2 linked regions of the Homo sapiens genome follow. The protein of the gene in region 1 interacts with the protein of each later gene in a pairwise test. Each region holds a gene or a part of one and is shown in the gene's direction. Other genes may lie near its edges.

Region 1 (8,170 bases):
AGAAAATCGGTCTGGGTATTATTTTAATGTTATGATACTGTGTATTGATGTTTATAAGATGGTAACTCTCCATTCATTGCTGCTGGTGATCCTCAGGTTTAACACTGTGAGCTTAGTCCTCATCTATGAATTAGCATCTGCGGAAACTCCGCACTGCCTCTCACTCAGCCTTGCCCCATGTGCATTATTTCAGGTGTCCACTGTGACAGCGTGTGTGCTGAGGGACGCTGGGGCCCCAACTGCTCCCTGCCCTGCTACTGTAAAAATGGGGCTTCATGCTCCCCTGATGATGGCATCTGCGAGTGTGCACCAGGCTTCCGAGGCACCACTTGTCAGAGGAGTAAGTGTCTCATTAGGCAGTAATTTCCACCTTCCCTTCCCTGGGCACCATGTATCGAATAATGATCTCTGTCCCACCTCTCAGTTTATAGTGATGTCCTGTTGCAGTTGAAGGCAAAAGAGAGTGTAATGGTTCACTTGTCCTTTGCAGAACTGTGTTCCCTAAGAGCTTCATTCTTTCCAGCCTTCAGAACTAACCTAACAGATGGGGATTTAACCATTTCTTCTCAATAATTACTTCATTGCCTCATTGGCACAACCATCAGGATATATTTCTTCACCCTTCCTGAAAGCTTTGGAATGGTGTTCTAGAAATTCACTGACCTGTAAATATGTTATTCAGCAGTTTGGCATTGGCCTTACCTCAATTACCAGACGTCAACATCAGCCAAACCTTGAGGCAAATCATTCATCCTGCTAGTAGTCTTAAAATCAGTGCTATGGGGAAAATGGAATTGCAAAGTTGAAAAAGGAGACTGTTGACATTGGTCCTTAAGACTTCTGAGTTAGAAGATTAAGTAATCTTTTAGTAAATGCAATCAAAAAAGAATATGTAACTAATTATAAGTTATACTATTCTAATTTTTTAAATTGCCTTTCCCCCCATAAGAATTCTATGCAGTTATCATATATTTAAATCTGAATAGTATCTTGGCAAGAACTTAAGTATATAGCATTTTGGTTAATCACTTTTCGATTACAGTCATTAACCTGGACCATTTTGAGGAGGAAAAATCTTCAAATTTTGACTGTTGATCGATTTTTATTGCCAGAAACGACTCTTAAAGAATAAAGAATCAACAAATGGTTTGAGAGTACTTATTTGAGACTTATTAGTATTTCAATTTTTTTATCTCTTTATTTATTCAATGAAAATTCCTGGAGCCCTGCTTTATGCCAAGACTTGAGCTAACTGGGGCCTTAAATGGGAAAATAAAGAAGACTAAGACATTTGCTTGCTCTCAAGAAACTCAGAGTTTAGTGGCTTCTTTTCCTCATTAAAGGGTTCCTTTGTTCCTTTGTTGTTCTTGTTTTCTACTTGGAAAATTCTCCGTATCTTTTTTACTTTTTTTTAAGGTTTTGCTTTTTAACCTCTAAAACTTTAACTAGATCCCGATCTGGAATGCGAGACAAACGCATCTCAGAAGGATAACTGCTGATTTCCCTTCTGTTTTCAGTCTGCTCCCCTGGTTTTTATGGGCATCGCTGCAGCCAGACATGCCCACAGTGCGTTCACAGCAGCGGGCCCTGCCACCACATCACCGGCCTGTGTGACTGCTTGCCTGGCTTCACAGGCGCCCTCTGCAATGAAGGTAAGGCACGAAGCATCCCGGACAGCTGGGTGGTGATGAGCACGCCCCGGAGAGTCTGTCCTCAGGCCTCCCCTTGGCCTTCCTGAAGGCCATGTTTTCAGCTGTCTGCTGGGAATGTCTTCTGCTGTGCTGTGTCTGCAGCTTCTCAGATAGGACTTTGAGCTTTGGAAAAGCTGGCTTGCCACTCCAGCAAAACCTTTTTATTTCCTGAGATGTGCTACTCTTCAGTTTTAGCTGGACATGTCCTCCCATAAAAAATCAATATGCGGAAGAATTTTAGACTCCCAGAGCAAGAAGTCGTGAAGTCATATTTCTAGAAGTGCAATGATGTCCCCTGGTTTGTGATGCCTTAATGCAAATCTTTGGCTTCATGGATTTGTAAAAATGAGCCCATTCAAGATGAAGGATGCTGTTGAGCAGAGATAGCTACCAATGAGCAGCTGGGCCTGTGACCTTTAAAGTTATTTCCTGTGCTAAGATTCTAGGGTTCTGCGAGAGGGGTTTTGATTGTGAGTTACTGACCTATAGCTTATTCACAGTGTGTCCCAGTGGCAGATTTGGGAAAAACTGTGCAGGAATTTGTACCTGCACCAACAACGGAACCTGTAACCCCATTGACAGATCTTGTCAGTGTTACCCCGGTTGGATTGGCAGTGACTGCTCTCAACGTAAGTCTTGTTTGAGAACAATTAATAAACTGTTCTTATTTGTTTGTTTTCAGATTCTTTAGGATTGAAGTATGAGTGTTTTTATATAATCAAGAAAGAATATATGACTAATTAAAAGACACATTCTACTTTAAATTCTTTTTTTAAAATTCTTTTTTTTTTTCCCATTACGACCTCTATGCAATGGTCCTATGTTTAAATCCAAATAATGTCTTGGAAAGAACCTAAATATGTAACATTTTCCTTATCCCCTTTTCAGTGATTCATCGTCCATTGAAATAAAGCAAAAACAGCTGTATTGAGAAATCTATCTCTTCATTTTGTGTTTATCTGGAGAGTTAATTACAGAGAAAGAAAAAATGGAATTAAATGATGTGAGCCTTAGAAACCTATTGGGAACCTGAGCGAACTGCCCACCTAATATGCTTAGCTTCACCTTGGCATCACCCAAGTGCCTTCCACACCACTGGATTTCAGACAGGAATTGTGTGACCCTATAAGGGACTATATAGATGACTCTTAGAGCACCCATGTCATGAAAAAAATGACATCGACTATAAGTCATTCATGAATGTTTTGAAAGGGTCAGTGCAATGTCTAAAAGTATTCAACTTTTGACCAAAAAATAGCATATGTATGGAGTAATCTGGTTTCATTCATTTTAAATTTTATGAAACACTCTCAGTTTATATTGAATTCCCCCATCATGCACATAAGAGAAATCAAAGAATGACTGTGTGCAGTCATTTTACATGGTGCTTTATTGATAATTTAATTCAAACTTCACAGTTACAAGCAACCTGCAAATACTAATTGATGAGCAATATATTTTTTGCTGGAAGATTTTTTTCTGAATGTTAATTTTTTCCATAAGTAGTCCAGGCTGTACCCCATTTTTTAGGAATAAGGGAAGAGAGCTAATAAATCTCAGAAGTGTAGCTCTTTGGTGAAAGAAGTGTTATGCGATATGATTTCACTCCATTCTGGGGGCATCACTTCAGAAGAAATCAGTCTGTTTAAATCTACATGTGTTGCAAGGGCTCTGACTGATGGTTGGGCGTATGGGTTTGGGAAGAGTAAAAGGTCCAATATCATTGTCACAAAATGATTGATTTATATTGCTCCTTTAAAAAGTAGTCTTTATTTTGGAAATTTGTCCCTTCCTCATTTGGAGGAGGAATGTGCTGAAAGGAATAAAAATAGAAACACAACTATGAATGGAGACTATAGTGTTGCCTGTCCCAATAATCACTCCACAGGAAGCTGACTTATTTGGCAAAAGCCTTTGCTTCTCCTGGGGATCATTGATTTCATTGATTCCCTTATGGACTCTGTGGAACCATCTTCATATTTCTTCTTAGCTGATTGTGAGCCTGTCTAAAGAGAGCAAAGTCCTTCACAGTGAAAACACAGACTTTGAAAACTTAAAGGGGTACATTTAAAGGGGCAGGTGTCCTTGGGAAAATGATTTTTTAAAGCACTATCTCTACGTTTACCTTTTGGGAATATAAAGTTGAGTGATGCTTATTCCCATTCTCTGATCATAACAAATATAGGGAGAAAAACCTAATGGCAGTGGGTTACCTCAGAAAAATATATTGTGAACATAAATGGGTTTACAGAAGCTGGTTAAATATCATCTAAGGAATAGGTTGTTTTAGGTAAAGAGTGCTTCACTGAGCATCAAATGGGCTAGACGCTTCAACAGTTTTCACTGAGTCTCACTGTGGCTTTGGGAAAGCTGTATTTGTCTAACAAATAACAAATATTATTATTAATCTATGTGACCTTGTACGAGTCACTATTAACCTTTTGTGTGCTCAGTTTCTTCATCTGTAAAATTAAGGTGTTGTATTTAGAAAATTTGTTCCAATGCTCACTCGAGACCTCAAGTGTCAGCTAGTATTTTCCCCTTGCTCTTGGACATGGTGCACACAATTATGGAAGAATTTTTTTCATTTAAAAAGTTACTTCATATGTATTATTGATTGTCTTTATAGGTCCACATTCCCTATGGGGTAGCCGTATAGAAATTACAGGTGGTCCTCCTTTTATGCAATTATGTTCCTAAAGTATTAATATGAATAAAAAGTATTTTTTGTCAATGAAATTATTTTACCCCCTGATCTTATGCTATTATTTCACAGATACTTTATCTGACTTTCTGATGTCTCTTCAATCGGCAGTGACCCCTAATGATTTAATTGTATTATTTTCTGGATCTTCCAGTTAAGAGTTTTTACAAGGAAACCAATTTTTACATACCGCTGGGAACCTCAATATTTAAAAGGAGCCTGAAGTGGCAACTCTAGAGTAGACTGAAGGGTACAGGATTTAGAAATTGTGAACATGAGCTACATGGCCTTGGGTCCTTTAACCTCTCTTGAGTCAAGTCATTTTCCACACCTTATCTCTGCTCAAATGTCCTCTCCTCACAGAGGCCTTCCTCAGAGGAGTAGCTCCCAAAATTATTGTCTTCCTTATCCTCCTTATGTTTTTTCATAATACCTACCACCATTGATTTTTCATTTTGTTGGTTGGTTGGTTGGTTTGCCTGCCTCCCCTACCAAAATAGAAGCTTCCAGAGGATGGTTTGGACTTTGTCTTATACTCTGCTATCTCCCTTGGGCCTGGAACAGTGTTGGGTACATAATAGGTGTTGAATATGTGTTTGTTTAATAACTGAATCTGTAAACTTGAGGTGATTTTTGCCCCAGCCACCTCACTCTGCAGTTGTAAATGAATACATATGTCAATAATGACAGTCGTTGTTGAAGTTGCCATGGCCATCTGGGATTTAGTGCAGAATTCAGAGCAGTGTGCTTTCTTAGTCCTGATGTACACTGCTAACCTCTCACATGCAGGGAGATGTGTAGAGGTGGATGGAATTCTCCCTACTTAGTATTGGCCTCAGAACTCTGATGGACTTCTCCATACCTGTAATTTCAGCATGTCCACCTGCCCACTGGGGCCCAAACTGCATCCACACGTGCAACTGCCATAATGGAGCTTTCTGCAGCGCCTACGATGGGGAATGTAAATGCACTCCTGGCTGGACAGGGCTCTACTGCACTCAGAGTAAGTGACAAGCCTTCTGAGGCTCACCAAGGGGAGCCTTGTCCAAGGAGGAAACAGCCTTACCCTCCGCATGCGTGACTGGAGCTCAACAAAGGTCCCTGAGGTTGGAGTACTTCCCTCTCCTAATGACCTGTAGACATATAAATTTCTCTAAGTGATTAAGAGCTACTTCATTCCAAGTATTCTGTCTCTAGGTTCTATCTCCACTGAGGTAGAGCAATGCTGTGTGATGGTATGCAGTTTATTTCTCTTCTCTCCTTTAACCAAATCATATTTATATGGATCAAATTCTCAATCCTTTAACAGCACAAAAGTTAGGATAAGTATAGAGATTAGAAAGGTAGAGAAGACAACAAGCCTCACTGCCTGATTTAATGTGCGCTCTTGGAAAAGGTGGAGTTCCGTGTTTTTCGAATGGTAGCAAGCTTCAGAATCACCTGGAGGACACAACAAACACAGAAGCTAGTTCCATCCCCAGAAAGCCGGAAGCAGCGAGTCTGGGCTGGCACCTGAGAATTGCCATTTTTATCAACTGGTAGTAATGCCAGGCTGGGACCATGCTTTGAGAGCCACTGCCCTAGTTCTTTTCCCCATTTTGTAATTCATAGCATCCTAACCATTTTTTCTTCCATTAGGCTTTTAGCATGATAGGATATAGTGTGCAAAGTACTTACTCCAAAGCTGAGCATCATTGGGGAAGGAAGATCATTCTCTGACCTCTTACCTTCGGTTGAATAAAGGAGACAAGAAAGGAAGGCATGTGTTATGGTTAAGTACTAATAATAGCGTATATTTTAAAATAATAGCAAGAAGCTGAGGAGGACAGATGGGTCTGAAATTGAGCAATTCTTATTTAATACTAATTAGAGTACATAATTAAAGAATAGGCTGAAAAAGTCTTAGAAACTTTCTAGAAGATAATGTAGACCTTGAACCAAGAGTTGAAAAGGATAATTGGCAAGGAAGGTAGCTGGCCCAAGCATATTCTTCAGAGTTCGTATATCTATAAATATTGTTTAACTTCTTAGAGAAAGGTACTTGTAAGATATTATTTATAATTCTAAAATTAGAACGTGCTTCAAAGAGAGAACCCTTTTTCAAGTGCAAGTAACATGATATAGTGGGAACAACATGGGGTCCAGAGCCAGACCTCCCTGTGTTTGAATCATGGCCCTGCCGTCCTGCCAGTTGCCAGCTGTGTGACTTAGGGTACTTGGGGCTTAGTTCCTGTCTACAAGACGGGAATATCCATCCCTGCATTTCTGGCCTGCTGTAAAGATTAAACAAGAGAACGCATGAAAAGAATCTGGCACAGAGTAGGTGCTAAATAAATGCATGACAGCAGGGAGTCATCGGTGCATACTGGCATCTGGGCACTGCCTCTGCTTCTTGAAAGTTCCATAAGAAAATGAGAAAATGAAAAGCATATGTAATATTTGGAAACAATCATTGAATCAGCCTGCATTGAATCTTTCATCACGCCAGAGATCCCCAAGACACTCTTGCAGGGCAGCTGCCAGCCCATGTAAGCCAACAGAATTTGTGGGTGTCTTTAGCTCAAGAGACTCGCCGGTCTAAGCATTGAAAATCATGCAGCAGTGTGAAGGGTTATTGCTTTTTACAAAGCACCTGTGAAGTACAATTGTTTTTTAAGGTAAGCATTCTAGTACACCTCTTCAGGGAAGTTGATATTATCTAAGATAATAACAGATACAGTGGACAAGGCTAGTAGCAACAATAGAGATGTTCTGTACTACAAGTAAAAGCATACAGGTAATTTTAATATAAAGTACCCGTCTCAGTCCATTGGAATTTGAGTCCAGGATTCTAGTAGAAATGTGAAAGAATGAAAGGAAATGTCCTATTCTTCCAGGATTGAAGGGATATTTTGTTAGAAGGCACTAGTCTTGCCTCCAGGGGTACCAGTGATGGTTACACTGACAGGAATGGAACTCTTCTGCCTCCTGCTTATGAATTACAACCTCCTTGCAAGAGCCCTGTCTTGGGACTTCAAAGAAGCTCTTGTGGCAAGCTCAGATATGTACTATTCACTGTATTCTCTGATGGCTCAGTGTCATTCAAGTTTAAACACAAATATGTTGGAGGCACGAGCCTCCAAGTGTTTCTCTTCAGCAGCCTCTTGACTCCTACTGTCCTCCCTCCTCCCACAGGATGTCCTCTAGGGTTTTATGGAAAAGATTGTGCACTGATATGCCAATGTCAAAACGGAGCTGACTGCGACCACATTTCTGGGCAGTGTACTTGCCGCACTGGATTCATGGGACGGCACTGTGAGCAGAGTAAGTATGAGAGTGTGGCATCACTGGGTGGTATTTTTTTCCTCTAGAATCACATTTCCTAGATGCCAGGAAATATTAAGGCAGAATTCACCACTCCGAGGTTGTTTGAGCTGATGGCTGGTTACTTCTCAGCATGACTGACTTCCCCTCCCAGAGGTCAGGCCTCCCTGGGATCATCGCTGGTTACTCACTGCTCTGGGCGGAGGAGGTGTGACTACAAGAATGAAGACAGAATTCAAGTTTTCCATTCTGTTCTTTTGGGCTCTCCCTTCCTCTCCTTCTTATTTTTGGAATGTGGCTGCTCAGAGCCTTAAAAGATCCAGTCGAGCTTTCTTCATGGCAGAGGCAGAACCCGGGTCTCACATTGGAGGACAGTACATTCGGTGGGGAGGAGGGCTGGTGGCCCAGGGCCAATCCCTGTTGCTGGTGAGGGAACACATCCATGCAAACATTGCCACCCTTTCAACAACCT
Region 2 (8,170 bases), on another chromosome or scaffold:
GGGTGGAGTAGCGTCTTTCCTCATTCTCCTGGAAGCACCTCAAGGCCTTATCCTTCCTGGGTGCCATTGTGAGGCAGAGTTGGGCAAGCCTGGGTAGGTCATCCCCTGACCAAAAGTGTGGCAGTTGCCTCACCCTGTGGCATTACCACAGCTGACTTATACCTAGACCTTAGGGTTCATGAAGTAGCTTTCACAGAATGTCTCATTTTCTCCCTTTTTCCTTGAAGTCGAGATATCGATATTATCTCTTTTTTTCAGATGAGCTCAGAGAGGTTGGGTTACTTGCCAAAGGTCACACTATATATAATTTACGGAGCTTGGACTCCCTTTTTCCAGGCTTCTTGGGGACTCCTCCATGAGCCCTGGAGTAAGCAATATCCTGGCCATGCTGAGATCCATGAGGGCAGCTCCGGGGCAGGCCTGGAGGGTGGACATTGGGGTCTTCTCCTGGGTACAGAGAGATTTCCAGATTCAGTCCTGCCAGCATGCCAGAGTCATGCCGACTGTGCATGTGGGGCCCAAAAGTGGCTTCAGACAGGCAGACCATGCGGCTTATGAGCGTCCCTCAGTGAGAAGCAAACAAAATAGCCGAACAAAGAATATAAACCATCTCTCTGCATCTTGGTTTTTTCATATGTGAACTAGTGTCAGAGGTAGTATACATCTTCCAAGGTTGTTCTGAGGATTGAATAGTGCCTTATAAGACACTCAGTCCAGTGCCCAGCATAGAGGAAGCATGTGGTATGTGCTGGCTGGCATGATTCCGGCCAGGTTTCTGGGAGACCTGTTGTCAGACCCAAAATAGAATAGACCCTGTTCTATTTTGCAGGGCTTCAGTTTCTTTTCTGGGCAGGGGTTGGATAGCAGACTGGAGATCTCTAAGGAATCAGCAGTTTGAAAACCTCAAAGGCCAAAAGCTCAGGAGCTTCTGGGAGATATAAGACTTTATCTGCCGGGCATGATGGCTCACGACTGTAATCCCAGCACTTTGGGAGGCTGAGACAGGCAGATCATGAGGTCAGGAGATCGAGACCATCTGGCTAACACGGTGAAACCCCGTCTCCACTAAAAATACAAAAAAAAATTAGCTGGGCATGATGGCGGGCACTTGTAGTCCCAGCTACTTGGGAGGCTGAGGCGGGAGAATGGCGTGAACCCGGGAGGCGGAGCTTGCAGTGAGCTGAGATCACACCACTGCATTCCAGCCTAGGGGACAGAGCAAGACTCCGTCTCAGGGAAAAAAAAAAAAAAAAAAGTGTGAACCTGGGAGGCGGAGCTTGCAGTGAGCCGAGATCACGCCACTGCACTCCAGCCTGGGCGACAGAACTAGACTCCGTCTCAAAAAAAAAAAAGACTTTATCTAAAAAATGAGAGGGCTTTGAGTCCTTGGAGAGCCTCCACTGGTCCTGAGTCATTTGTCATTTCTCAGTTTGAAGAACATGGGTGCTCTGGTAGCCTGCTTATATAGTTGTGGTCCCACTCCCCTCTACCCTCACTTCCAATTCAGAGCTGAGGTCCCTAGAAATGCAGCCACTTCTCTTGGCAGGAGGGTTTTTGACAGGCTGTTTTTTGTTTTTGTTTTTTTGGGACAGGGTCTTGCTCTGGCACCCAAGCTGGAACCCAGTGGCACAATCATACTAGCTCACTGCAGCCTCAACCTGCAGGGCTCAAGTGGTCCTCCTGCCTCAGCCTCCCAAGTCGCTGGGACCACAGCTAATTTTATATATTTTGTAGAGACGGAGCCTCGCTATGTTGCCCATGCTGGTCTTGAACTTCTGTTCTCAAGAGATCCTTCCACACAGGCCATTGTTAACCTGAACTTTGCCAGCTTGGAACCTCTGAGGACTCTGACTGCGTATGGACTGGAGATAGGCAGCTGCCACCCTCCCTGTTTCCACTTCTCTGTCAGCTTGGGGATGACATTGAAGCATTGGACTAGGAACAAATCCAGCCCCACCACCTTTGCTAGCTTTATGACTACTGGCAAATTGTCGAACCTCTGAGGCTTATTTTTCTCCTTTGTAAAATGCAATAAGCCTGCTTCCCAGAGTTGGTGTGAGGATCAGATGAAGTAATGGATGGAAAAGGGGCGAGGTGCGGTAGCTCACACCTGTAATCCCAGCACTTTGGGAGGCCGAGGTGGGCAGATCACTTGAGGTCAGGAGTTCAAGACCAGCCTGGCCAACATGGTGAAACCCTGTCTCTACCAAAAATACAAAAATATATATTAGCCGGGCATGGTGGTATGTGCCTGTAGTCCCAGCTACTCGGGAGGCTGAGGCAGGAGAATTGCTTGAACTCGGGAAGCAGAGGTTGAAGTGAGCCAAGATTGTGCTACTGCACTCCAGCCTGGGCGACAGAGTGAGGCCCTTCTCCAAAAAAGGATCTGGCATGCACAATAAGTTTCCATAAATATGTGTTAAATCAAGAGAAGTATCAGGTCTGAAGGGCCGCAGGGGATAGATCTTTTGGATTTAGTTCCCCTTAGCAGGCTTTCTTTGCGGGTGGAGGAGCTATGCACCTGCCTAAGCATCTGATTTCACTTCTGGCCAGGCCGCCAGTGAAGAGAAGGCCATGGTCTAATTAAAACTACCTAGCCCGGGGCCGGGCTCAGTGGCTCACGCCTGTAATCCCAGCACTTTGGGAAGCTGAGGTGGGCAGACCACAAGGTCAGGAGATCGAGACCATCCTGGCTAACATGGTGAAACCCCGTCTCTACTAAAAATAGAAAAAATTGGCCTGGCGTGGTGGTGGGCGCCTGTATTCCCAGCTACTCGGGAGGCTGAGGTAGGAGAATGGCGTGAACCGGGGAGGCAGAGCTTGCAGTGAGCCGAGATCGCACCACTGCACTCCAGCCTGGGCGACAGAGTGAGACTGCATCTCAAAAAACAAAAACAAAAACAAAAAAACCTTCCCAGCTGGACACAGTAGCTCATGCCTGTAATCCTAGCACTTTGGGAGGCTGAGGCGGGCAGATCACTTGAGGTCAGGGGTTCAAGACCAGCCTGGCCAACATGGTGAAACCCTGTCTCTACTAAAAATACAAAAATTAGCCAGGCGTGGTGGTGGGCACCTGTAATCTCAGCTACTGGGGAGGCTGAGGCCAGAGAATTGCTTGAACCAGGAGGCAGAGGTTGCAGTGAGCCAAGATCGTACCACTGCACTCCAGCCTGGGCTACGGAGGGAGACTCTGTCTCAAAACAACAACAACAAACCAAAAAAAACAACTACCCGGCCCTAGCACTGGCTCCACCATGGGGTGCAGAGGCAGAGTAGCCCCAGGGGCTGGCCCTGATGACTGTTCCTTTCCCCCCACAGGTATAGCCTTCACAGACCTCCCGGTGAGTACTACTATTGAGTCTTCCCCTCCTGGGTTTCTGGGGGCTGACTGGGATGGGGCACGGTGGTACCTGCAAGTGCAGGGTGTGGAGTCTGGTTCTTTCCCCAACCAGGGATGTGTGCCATGCTGTCAGCTTGAGGGTACCAGGAGGGGCACTTGCTGGCCTTCCTCTCTCTCCAGCAGTAAGGTCTGGTCTTCCTACGACTCTTAGCAGGTGACAGTAATTTGTGGCACTTCCAAAGGCAGCTGTGGGGCTGGGGCGGGTAGGGTGGTGGAATGAAGATAGCTCCATGGCTCAACTGGTCTAAACCAGCTGTGTGTCAGCTGGGGTGCAGAGTGTAGGGAATTGTTCCTGAACTGTGAGGGAACCTAGTCCTTGTACATACCCATCAGAGATCCCTGAGGAAAGTTAGTGCCCTAGGGGAACTCATCTGCTACTATCTAGGGCACCCCCAAGCCAGAGAGGTGAGCTTTGTGGGGTCTTCTCTTCTTAGAAAAGGATGGAGTTTTCTGGCCGGGTGCGGTGGCTCACACCTGTAATCCCAGCACTTTGGGAGGCCGAGGTGGGCAAATCACGAGGTCAGGAGATCAAGATCGTCCTGGCTAACAGGGTGAAACCCTGTCTCTACTAAAAATACAAAAAAAGTTAGCCGGGCCTGGTTGCAGGCGCCTGTAGTCCCAGCTCCTCGGGAGGCTGAGGCAGGAGAATGGCCTGAACCCGGGAGGCAGAGTTTGCAGTGAGCTGAGATCGCACCACTGCACTTCAGCCTGGGCGACAGAGCGAGCCTCCGTCTCAAAAAAAAAAAAAAAAAAAAAAAAAAGAAAAGGATGGAGTTTTCTGCTTGCTTAGTTCAAAAAAAAAAAAAAACAGAAAAGGATGGAGTTTTCTGCTTGCTTAGTTCAGGGCATATCCTCACCTCCAGCCATCCCGCACCTGTACTCCAGTCTCTATTATGAGTCATCACAGGCCTAATCACATGCAGGGCCTCCACCCAGGATGCTGGGAGCCTGGCCTGGCTCTGTGTGTTCTGGTTAGGTTCTGGAAGGAAGGAAGGTTTGCTGACTCTGGTGGCTGCTTTGGGATCCCAAACACCCCAGTGATGCCCCAGGAAATGCCTTTGTGATCTTATGGGCCTCTGAAGCCCAGACCATAGCACCCAGGGTCCTGTTAAAACCTCCAGTCCATGGCTCAGAATCCTTCCCTCTTACCTGGAAGCCCCAGAGAGGGGCTGTGGTCCTAGGCAAAGAGAACAGAATCAGGTGGAGAATGCTGACCCTGGCTAGGGAAGGGTCTAGTTATGGGGACGTGACATGAAATGACCAGGCATGAGCATGGCCAGTATGCAGCCACATGCAAGAAGGTATGGGGGAAAGACATGGTAGGCAGTGACGGTCAGGAAGGCTTGCTGGAGGAGGCGGGCCTTGCCTGTGGTGGAGGATGGTAGGGGAAAGAAAGGAAGCGAGAGGTCCTCTGTGTGCAGAGCCCATGGTGGGCTGAAGCCAGCATACAGGAAAAGGTCCCATACCTTGTGCAGGTACAAAAATGCATGGTTGGCCAGGCGCGCTGGCTCACGCTTGTGATCCTAGCACTTTGGGAGGCTGAGGTGGGCAGATCACCTGAGGTTGGGAGTTCAAGACCAGCCTGACCAACATGGAGAAACCCCATCTCTGCTAAAAATACAAAATTAGCCGGGCGTGGTGGCGCATGCCTGTAATCCCAGCTACTCAGGAGGCTGAGGCAAGAGAATTGCTTGAACCCAGGAGGTAGAAGTTGCGGTGAGCTGAAATCGCGCCATTGCACTCCAGCCTGGGCAACAAGAGCGAAACTCCGTCTCAAAAAAAAAAAAGTGCATGATACTCAGGAAGGAACATGGCCTGAGCACGGAGGTGAAGGGTGGACTGAGGGCCCTGGGAAGACCATCTGCAGTGACAGTGGGGAGGAGGCTAGCGAGGCTCTGGACAGTTGCAGTGGGGAGCCACAGGAACCACCAAGTGAGGGAGGGACCGAACAAAAGCCAGTCATGGTAGAGGCTAGGTGGAAAGCAGGGAGCCTCACACCCTACTGGCCAGAAGATCCTCTTAGCGAGCCTCTAACAGGAAGGGTAGCTTCTCTTCACCCTTTGCCAGCACCAGGGGTCTAGACCACCGGTTCCCTTTTGCCATGTTCCCCTCCTCCCTCCTTTCCTGCGTCATCCCATCTCTGCCTACCCCCCATGTATCTATCTTTTGGTTTGTTTTTTTTTTTTCTTTCTGAGACAGGGACTCACTCTTGTCACCAAGGCTGGGTTGCAGTGGCAGAATCACAGCTTACTGCAGCCTCAATTTCCTGGACTCAAGCCATCTTCCCACCTCAGCCTCCCGAGTAGCTGGGACCACAGGTGCATACCACCACACCTGGCTAATTTTTATCTTTTTATTTTTTGTAGAGACAGGGTCTCACTTTGTTGCCCAGACTGGTCTTGAAAACCTGGGCTCAAGCGATCCTCCTAAATTGGCCTCCCAAAGTGCTGGGATTACAGGCATGAGCCACTGTGCCCAGCCTCATGTGTCTTATTTTTTTTGAGACAGAGAGATCCTTGGCCCTGGATCTTTCCAAGAGGAGCCATGACCCACTATTGCAGCAGACCTTCATGGGCACGTCTGAAGGGTCGTGGAGCCCAGCCCATTTCTGTATGCTTTGGCTGAGTTCCAGAAAGGGCTCTTGGGCCTTGAGGACACAATGGCCTCTGATACAGGGCAGGACACTCTCCATGATGTGCCTTGCTTGCTTTTCTTTTGCTTTCTCCCCTCAAGCTTTGGGGCATAATGTCTCTGCTAGGGAGGTGGACAGAGGTGGCTCCGCCCTGCCTCCTCCAGCCTTGCTGCAACTCTCCCAGCCCAAGCATGGGCCAGCAGCAGCCATGGAGGTGAGGTGAGGCCTTAGAACCCCACTGCCCTCAGGGCCTGACTGACATTTCATTCTCCTCCTCAGGCCAACCTCTACCCCACCGTAGGCCTGCAGACACCTGGGGAGATTGTGGACGCCAACTTTGGGCAGCAGCCCTTCCTGTTTGACATTGAGGACTACATGCGGGAGTGGCGTGCCAAGGTCCAGGGCACGGTCCACTGCTTCCCCATCAGTGCCCGGCTTGGCGAGTGGCAGGCAGTGCTGCAGAAGTGAGTGCCCTGCTCCTGCCCTTACCCACTCCCACCCCACCCCAGCCCACTTCACTCTAGGCCCCTGTAGGGCTACAAGCTGTTCTTACAAATTCCAGCGGGTGGATCCTTTCTGGGAAGCATTCCCAGGGCCATTCAGCCTGCAGCTCTCCTGCTTCTCTGTCGTCGGATGGACAGCTCCCACCGAGTTCTCCGGGCTGCTCCTAATTAAACCTTTGCCTCTCAGCCATATTGGAGGCTCCTGTATATAAGATCACCAGCAGGGCTGTTTTCCTTCCCCAGGTCATTTTGCAGAGGATTTTGCAGAGGATGCCCTGTGGTCTCTTCCTCTGTGGACCCTTTTTCTACCATAGGGAGTATCCATGGTGCTGTGACTCTGGCCTGAGGCCACCTCACAGGGCCCAGCATCCAACTGAGTCTCATTCGTCTATAGCGGTGGTGGAGGGAAGGGAGTTCTCCCTAGGACCAGCTGAGCTAGCTCCTTGGCTGATTAATTCCCAGACTGTCCTGGAAGCCAGTGTCGCTGAACTCCCAAGGGAGGCCAGCTTTGGGTTTCTCTTCCACTTGCCATCTGCAAGCCTGAGTGAGGCAGTGACCAGTATCCACTCTGCCAGGAGGTGGGTGTTAGCTTGGCTCTCAAGGATGGGCAGATGGGCATGGGGAAGGGCTGGGCTTCCACTGCCTGTGGTCATTGCCCTGCAAAGGCACCAGGGTGCTAGGATTCCTGGGGTGGGGTTGGGGTACACACTGAGTTCTTTGTGCAGCCTTTGTCCCTTGAGGCAGGCCCCAAGGATGGGCTGAGGCAGGGGCTAGGTGGCCAGACCTTCCCCAGGAAAAACAGCATTGCTGCCTCTTGTTCACAGCCCCCCAGAGCAGATGACAAGGACTTCCTTGGATGGCCAGGACAGCGCCACTCCCAGAGCAGGCTTGGTGGGATTGCCAAGAAGAGGGGTGAAGATGCCAAGTCTGTGTAGGGGAGGAACTGATACTCTCAGTTTTCAGGGCCTAGGCTCAGCACATGGATGTGTTTTTGTTTTGGGGTTTTTAAAAAAATACTGAGATGGGGTCGCACTTTGTTGCCCAGGTTGGACTCCTGGGCTCAAGTGATCCTCCCACCTCAGCCTCCTGAGTAGCTGGCATCACAGGCATGTGCTACCATGTCCAGCATAGCACATAGGTGTTTTTGTTTACATGTGTGTATCCATGTGCTTGTATGTGTTCATATGTAGCATTTGCCAAGACCTGCATATAATTTGTGTACTGTGGTTTTACATAACTTCATTTAATGAATATTGATAATGGCTATGTTATCACAGAGACAAATTTGTCACAAGCCTTTTGGCTGGCTTCCTCTAGTGGAAGGTCAGGTAATTCCTTCTCTTTTACTTGTGTAGGTAACCCTCTTGTAGATAAAGACTTTTTCATATTTACCCTTGTGTTTATAATAATAATATGGTGTAATAATAATAATTATACTTACTTTACTTTTTTCTGAGTCAGGAGTTTACTCTATTGCCCAGGCGGAGTGCAGTGACACAGTCATGGCTCACTGCAGCATGGACCTCCTGAGCTCAAGCAATTCTTCTACCTCAGTCTCCTGAGTAGCTGGGACTGTAGGCATGCACCACCACACCTGGCTAATTTTTTGTATTTTTTGTGGGGACAGGGTTTCGC

What was found. Proteins that work in one complex are often made in the same cells at the same time.
Region 2: the proteins of MEGF10 (region 1) and RANBP10 interact in a two-hybrid assay, tested with the Homo sapiens proteins (one study listed by BioGRID and IntAct).

The regions. Positions count from the first base shown.
Region 1 is NC_000005.10:127,433,170-127,441,339, forward strand, and holds part of MEGF10 (multiple epidermal growth factor-like domains protein 10 isoform a precursor), read left to right. Parts: intron 1-193; coding exon 194-340; intron 341-1,517; coding exon 1,518-1,652; intron 1,653-2,191; coding exon 2,192-2,320; intron 2,321-5,269; coding exon 5,270-5,398; intron 5,399-7,569; coding exon 7,570-7,698; intron 7,699-8,170. UniProt on the Homo sapiens protein: Membrane receptor involved in phagocytosis by macrophages and astrocytes of apoptotic cells. Receptor for C1q, an eat-me signal, that binds phosphatidylserine expressed on the surface of apoptotic cells. Cooperates with ABCA1 within the process of engulfment.
Region 2 is NC_000016.10:67,733,184-67,741,353, reverse strand, and holds part of RANBP10 (ran-binding protein 10), read left to right. Parts: intron 1-3,318; coding exon 3,319-3,341; intron 3,342-6,311; coding exon 6,312-6,496; intron 6,497-6,554; exon of another isoform or gene 6,555-6,805; coding exon of another isoform or gene 6,806-7,113; intron 7,114-8,170. UniProt on the Homo sapiens protein: May act as an adapter protein to couple membrane receptors to intracellular signaling pathways.